Homo sapiens: one gene and its partner. The protein of the gene in region 1 purifies or fractionates together with the protein of each later gene. This does not show direct contact. Each region holds a gene or a part of one and is shown on either strand. Other genes may lie near its edges.

What was found.
Region 2: the proteins of TANK (region 1) and RNF115 purify together in Homo sapiens (affinity purification with mass spectrometry, with the first as the bait; one large-scale study listed by BioGRID). This does not show direct contact.

What each region holds. Positions count from the first base shown.
Region 1 is NC_000002.12:161,201,928-161,205,582, reverse strand, and holds part of TANK (TRAF family member-associated NF-kappa-B activator), read right to left. Parts: intron 2,097-3,655; coding exon 1,988-2,096; intron 909-1,987; coding exon 790-908; coding exon of another isoform or gene 757-789; exon of another isoform or gene 607-756; intron 1-606.
Region 2 is NC_000001.11:145,813,953-145,817,607, forward strand, and holds part of RNF115 (E3 ubiquitin-protein ligase RNF115), read right to left. Parts: intron 1-3,655. UniProt on the Homo sapiens protein: E3 ubiquitin-protein ligase that catalyzes the 'Lys-48'- and/or 'Lys-63'-linked polyubiquitination of various substrates and thereby plays a role in a number of signaling pathways including autophagy, innate immunity, cell proliferation and cell death.

The DNA.
Region 1 (3,655 bases):
GTCTCCTTGCAGATATGTACTATTTCTTTCTGTATTACTTCAATAGAGTCTTGCTTAAGCTAGTTGGGTGTATTTTTCTTTTAAACTAAGCACAGACTATTGAAGAAAAAGCTAGAAAGCTATTATCTAATCTGTGTCTTATTATTTACCTGATTTTAATCTTTTATTTCATTGTTTATATATATACACACACACACCACACACACACATATATGTACATATGTATGTGGCATTCATTCATTAATTCATTTATTTATTTATTTAGAGATAGGGTCTCACTCTGTTACCCAAACTGGAATGCAGTGTCATGATCATGGGTCACTGCAGCAGCCTTGACTTCTTAGGCCCAAACAATCCTCCTACTGAGTAACTGGGACTGCAGGCGTGTGCCATTCTGCGTGGCTAATTTTTTCATTTTTTATAGAGATAGGGATCCCCCTATGTTGCCCAGGCTGGTCTCAAACTGCTGAGCTCAAGTGATCCTCCCTCCTTGGCCTCCCAAAGTGTTTGAATTACAGGAGTGAGTCAGTGTGTCCAGCCCTATTTCTTTGTTAAATGTTTTCTTTGTTGAAATGCTTGTGATGTAGAAAAACGGTCAGTAGGAAATACAAAACCTCAGCCTTTATTTTACTTGAAAATAGTTCTTCTATTTAGAAATATTTAAGCCACATATTTGTATATATGGAACTTCTGTTTGGAATTCCAGCAGATCACTTCAGAAAAATAAAATGAGGAAGCTATGTCACGCATCAGCATTTAAATGCTGCTTTCTGCAGAAGCAATGTCTACCTTTGGTAGTTTTTCTCTTGCTATTCCTGAAATCACTTTATCTTGTGGCTGATCAAGAGTCAAATTATTCTTTCTTGTTTCACTGTCTTCAAGCAGAGGAACACAGCCATAATTGTTATCTGCAAGACAAAAACCTCTTGGACATTAGCAGAAAACCCTTATTTTTGGTACCACCTGAAAAAGCAAAAAATAATACAAACTCAAAACCATAAAGAGAATACATTTTAAGGTAGGAGTTTTAGAAAATTCTTTAGGTAATAGTTACTTTGACAAGTTGTCCATTTATATTTTTTCCTTCCCACTAAACAAACACACAAAACCCCTGCTCTCCAAAAGCCAGCAGTATGTAAAATATGCAGAATTTAGAAAACTAGAAATATGCTCTTTGCATCTGTCAGCAACAATTCAACTTTTATATTCACATTTTCAGGTATGCGTTTCTTATTTAAGATAATTATTTGTATTATGACTCCATGCTTATTATGGGAAAATTAGAAAATGCAGACAGCCAAAAAGAATAAAAAGTAAATGCTACCCAAATTTTTATCACCTGTGAATTATTCCAGTTAATATTTTGGTTTATATATTCTATCAGAATTCTTCTTTTCCTATACATATAACTTCACACAAGAATCACCTTTTTCTGCATAAATGAAAAAAACACTTATTTATGTATCCTGCTTTGTTCATTTTGCTATATATCGTCCACATATTCTTACAAGTTAATACCTATTATCATCACTTTTCTTGGCTACATAGCTATTCATATAGATCAGTGTAACTACTGAATATTTGTTTCTAGCTTTCCATGATTAGACATTATACTGTGATACACATCCTCGCATATATATTTTTGAGTACCTGAACAAATATTTTCTTATGATATAGTCTTAGGACTTGAGTTTTTGGTTCAAAAGGCATAGATGTTTTCAAAAGCTTTTGCTGCTATTTACTGGCAAATTGCTTTTTAGGAAGTTTTATAAACTTAGAGTTCTACCATATAGTATAGTATATGTGAAAGTCCACTTTCCCATATCCTGCAAGTGTTCATTTAAATAAACATAACATATAACTGTACCACAGTTATAATATCAAAACTATTGAGAAACAACGAAGGAATAAAATAGAAAAACTCAACTTACACCTTTCTTTTCACCAAGAGGTTCTAGAAATACATAAAAAATTAACATGAACATACCTTGAGTGGAATTCACAAGAAGTAACTGAGATTTTAGCTTGTCAATAATAGTCTGTTGAAGTGACAGCTGTTCCTGTTGTTCACGTATTCTCTGCTCATAGTTCTCAGTCTGCTGACATAAAAACCAGTTAGCCTGATATTCACTGATAGACATGAACATATATTTACCATCCATTGATAATATAAATAGATATGAGTTGCCCACATTGTCATTTTGCAGGTATTGTGATTTATGAGATACAAACTGGCTCCAGGAATGTACTTGTAATTGTTACAAACATCAGTGATTCAAGACACTTAAAGCACCGCAGAAGTTTTAAAGATTAACTTATTTAAAGACATTTCAGTCAAGGATTCAATCTATGATTTCCTGATCCTTCAGTAAGGATCAAAACTGTAATTTAGCATTTATTCCTTAATGGAAAAAAAAAAGCACAAATGATACAACAGATGCTATATTAAAGTGATTCTTTAAAAATACATACTAACTTAAAAAATTAAGATTTTGTGTCTTTCAAATAAACACACTTCTAAATTTATTTTTAGAGTACACAAACACTAAGGAAGTGTTGATACAAATCAAAGGGACAAATGCAAATTATAAAATTATACTGACCAGAAACTTCTCCACTAAGTTTTAAGAAATTAAGAGAATATAGTTGACCTTTGGTGTCTTAAATGCCAGTTTCCCTTATATTGTTAATCCATTAATTTTGCTATGTTATTGCAGTGACTGTGAGAATAAAGCAATGAAAAAAGACACAAGTTTGTACTGAGGAATACAGATGCTGCAAACATTCAAGCAAATTTGAAACTGTTGTATCACAATTACCAAATTAGTACAGTCTTAAAAGCGTATCACCAAACAATAGCAGAGAACTCTTTTTTTAACCAATTTCTATCCCTGGAGGGATAAATAAATAATGACTAAGTTGCAAATTCCTTGAAATATAAAATGAAAATGAAGTTCTAATAATCTCAGAATGATCTTCAGTAGATACTAGATATTTCACTTTAAACTGATTCTTAAAGTTCAAAATTAGTGAAGCTCTATTATTTTCAGAGACCAATAAACTTAAAAATTTTAATAAATTACATAGCTGTTCATAGATTAGCAAATATAAATTAGCTTAAGAAATTAAAGCTTGGGAGGCTGAGGTAGGTGGATCACGAGGTCAGGAGATTGAGACCATCCTGGTTAACACAGTGAAACCCCATCTCCACTAAAAATACAAAAAATTAGCCAGGCGTGGTGGCAGGCACCTGTAGTCCCAGCTACTTGGGAGGCTGAGGCAGGAGAATGATGTGAACCCGGGAGGCGGAGCTTGCAGTGAGCCAAGATCACACCACTGCACTCCAGCCTGGGCAACAGATCCAGACTCTGTCTCAAAAAAAAAAAAAAAAAAAAAAAAAGAAATTAGAGCTAAATACTACATTTTCCCAAATGAAAGGTGAACTTTTATAAGTAATACACTCCAAATATGAATAACTGACAAAGCTGATAAGCAACCCATGTGGTACATTGTCTTTGCACATTGCCTAAAGGCAGTCTTACATAGTTTCACATTCCCCACAGAATTCATATGGATTAAGTAACTTATACATAGGAGATGTTCAGTATATGTTCACTGAAAAATTAAAAAAGGAAATACGGATTCCAATTACATT
Region 2 (3,655 bases), on another chromosome or scaffold:
CCCTCCTCCAGCCCCTAGTTCCAAAAATCAAAAATGTCTACAGGCTGGGTGTGGTGGCTCACACCTACCATCCCAATACTTTGGGAGGCCGAAGCAGGACTGCTTGAGGCCAGGAGTTTGACACCAGCCTAGGCAACACAGTGAGACTCTGTCTCTACAAAAAATTAAAAAATTAGCCGGGTGTGGTGGTACAGCTAGTTGGGAGGCTGAGGTGGGAGGATTGCTTGAGCCCAGGAGGTGGAAGCCGCAGTGAGCCGTGATCATGCCACTGCACTCCAACCTGGGCAACAAAGTCAGACTCTGTCTCCAAAAAAAAGATAAAAAATTGTCTACAGACTTTGCCAAATGTTCCCTGGGAAACAAAACTACCTGAAATTGAAAACCACTGCTCTAGGCTATCTCATTTATTGCTCAGTAGGATGTGAAGAGATCCAACCTGGCCAACATGGTGAAACCCTCGTCTCTACTAAAAATACAAAAATTAGCCAGGCGTGGTGGCAGGCACCTGTAATCCCAGCTACTTGGGAGGCTGAGGCAGGAGAATCACTTGAAACTGTAAGGCAGAGGATGCAGTGAGCCGAGATCGTGCCACTGCACTCCAGCCTGGGTGAAAGAGGGAAACTCCGTTTAAAAAAAAAAAAAAGAGGCAACTAAACATAAAGAAATACAAAGTGTTAGCACATCTAGTTGGTACTTCCCCCGAAAATACAAAAAATTTCTTCTGCAGTGAGTTCAATTTTCAGATTTTTTTCTTCCTTATACTGAAAAAGTCCCACAAATTTCCCCAATATATACATTTATATTTATCAGTAGAATTACAAGGATAAACTAGCCTCTACCTATAAGAATACATATTTATTTCTAGATATTGCAGTGAATATATGTACTTCACTGTACATTCAAATTTCACATGGTAGCACCTACATTTTGTACCACTGTAGCCTTTTAAAGGCGTCAAAACACTGAAGTCATCACTTTTTAAATATAATTACTGGGTGTTCAACTCATATCAATCATTCAATTAAAAAATATTTAATTAGCAACTGCTATATAGCACCAGATAGACATCTCTCTGGGACCTTTCTAAGAATCATGCAACTTAGAAAGGTCAGCTGAGCTTAAACGGTCACAAAGTCTTTAAGAAATCTGCTTTTTAGCTACTTTTATTATGGGTGGTTTGAACATTTTCCTGTATTAGAGTTATTGCAAGTACAATACAATGATGAATGCCTTCTCTAGCACCTGGTAGAGCCAAACTAGATAACATTACTTATTGATAAGGAAAACATTTTATTAGATCAAAGAAGATGATAAAATAAGTAGAGGGAGAGAAGCCTACTACATAGTTTCTTCAGGTGGAGCCTGAAAGCGAGCAGTTCTTAACCTGATCTCTTCATCTGGATTTAGGAAGATACCCTGATCTCCATAAAATACTTAAGAACCACCCTAGTCTCATCAATACCAAAAGTAGGTTACTCTGCATATGATTTATCTCACCTGTTTAATGATGACTCTACCAGATTTAATCACATAAGGTAACATTCCCTGACCTTGATTTAATGGGGAAAGACGGATGGTAGGGTGTAGGAATGGAATAACACCTTTACACTCCATGACACAGCCCTCTGTGGTGTACTACCCAGTCATTCATCATCAATGTAGCACACTAACTCCATTAGTCTTGGCTTCACATTGTCTCTCAATAAGATAGGTAAGGTAAGAGTTTCTGCTATGGTTTTGAAAATAATAATCTGAAGTTACTTTAAGTATTTATTCTATAATCTGATGACCAAAAAATCTACAATGGCATTTTACCCAATCCTACAGAAACTTAAAATCCTGAGGCTCCAGACTATATAATCGAAATCTCTGATTTTAAAATCCAAGTTTAGTACTCACAAAATTTTACTAAAGTTATTTTCACTGTAAATAGGAAAACACTTTTAATAAGGAGAAAGAAATTCCTAAACCAATACTCACTTGGAATGGAGACTTTTTTGAAACCTAACAGAAAACAATGCCACTAAATATGTTTTCATTTTAAAATTCCCTTCATGATTTCTCCTTATTTCTTAATATCCTCTTTCCAAATGAACCTTTTGTCCTCTTTTTGAATGGTTTTTTTTTTTTTTGAGATGGAGTCTCGCTCTTTTTGCGAGTGCAATGGCACGATCTCAGCTCACTGCAAGCTCCGCCTCCTGGGTTTTCAAGCGATTCTCCTGCCTCAGCCTCCCGAGCCCAGCTCAAATCACTAAATTGCTTAGATTAGAGGCGCCCACCACCACGCCAGGCTAATTTTTGTATTTTTAGTAGAGACAGGGGTTTCACCATGTTGGCCAGGCTGGTTTTGAAGTCCTGACCTCAGGTGATCCGCCCACCTTGGCCTCCCAAAGTGCTAGGATTACAGGCACTAGTCACCATGCCCGGCCCTCTTTTGTCCTCTTATCTGAGTGGATCCAACCCAAAGACACACAAAGCTAAAATTGATCAGGATTAGCAGTAAGGAGTGTTATTCTGTCAAATTAAATGAATTCAGCCTACATGTGGCTTTAAAAAAAAAGGTGAAATAATAAAGTAATTAAATTTTAAAAAGAAGAGAAGAGTTATTAAACCTTGCAACCTAGTCCCGTTGAACACAATTATGGCTCTGAAGCAGACCTTCCCATTGAATGGGTGAAGAAACCTAGTGAGAGCTCATTAAAAGCTGATGTAAACTCAATACCCAGCCTCTGGTGTTCAGTGAGGACAGCACTCATAGATGATGGGTTCTTTCTTTCTTTTTCTTTTTCTTTTCTTTTCTTTTTTCTCTCCTCTCTCCCCTCTCTCTTCTCTCTCATCCAGACTGGGTCTCTGTTGCCCAGGCTGGAGTACAGTGGCACAACCATAGCTCACTGTAACCTCAAATATCCTGGGCTCAAGTAATTCTTCCACCTCAGCCTCCCAAGTAGCTAGGACTACAAGCACATGCCACCATACCCAGCTAATTTTTATTTTTTTTGTTGAGACAGGGTCTTGCTATGTTATCCAGGCTGGGAGAACATTTTAAACAAAGGGAGACAGAGGTCTAAAAATAGATAATGCATAGGAGAATGGTGAGGTAAATGCTATGGCCAAGGCACAGGGCGTGTGGAGGAATGAGTTGGGTTTTTGAAGTTGATTAGATTAAATCATGGAGTCTTTTTCTTTTTTGAGATAAGCTCTTGCTCTGTCACCCAGACTGGAGTGTAATGGCACAATCACAGCTCACTGCAGCCTCGACCTCCCGGGCTTGAGCAATCTTCCCCGACTCAGCCTCCTGAGTAGCTAGGACCACAGACACACACCACCACCCCTGGCTAATTTTTTTAATTTTTGTAGAGATAGGGTCTCACTTTGTTGCCCAGGCTAGTGCCAAACTCCTGGGCTCAAGCAATCCTCTCCTGCCTTGGGTTCCCAAAGTGTTGGTATAACAGGTGTGAGCCACAGCATGCCCCAGTGAGGGATGGTTCTTGGTATCCAACTATCACAAGAGTCAGTACCCTCTTTGTTTACTTTGTTTTTATAAAATTTATCCATATCTGATTTTAACTGGGGTATTAAGCCTTTTTATATATTGACTATAAATGGTTTTTAGGTTTTAGGTCCTTCATTTTGCTCTTTGTTTTCTACACATATT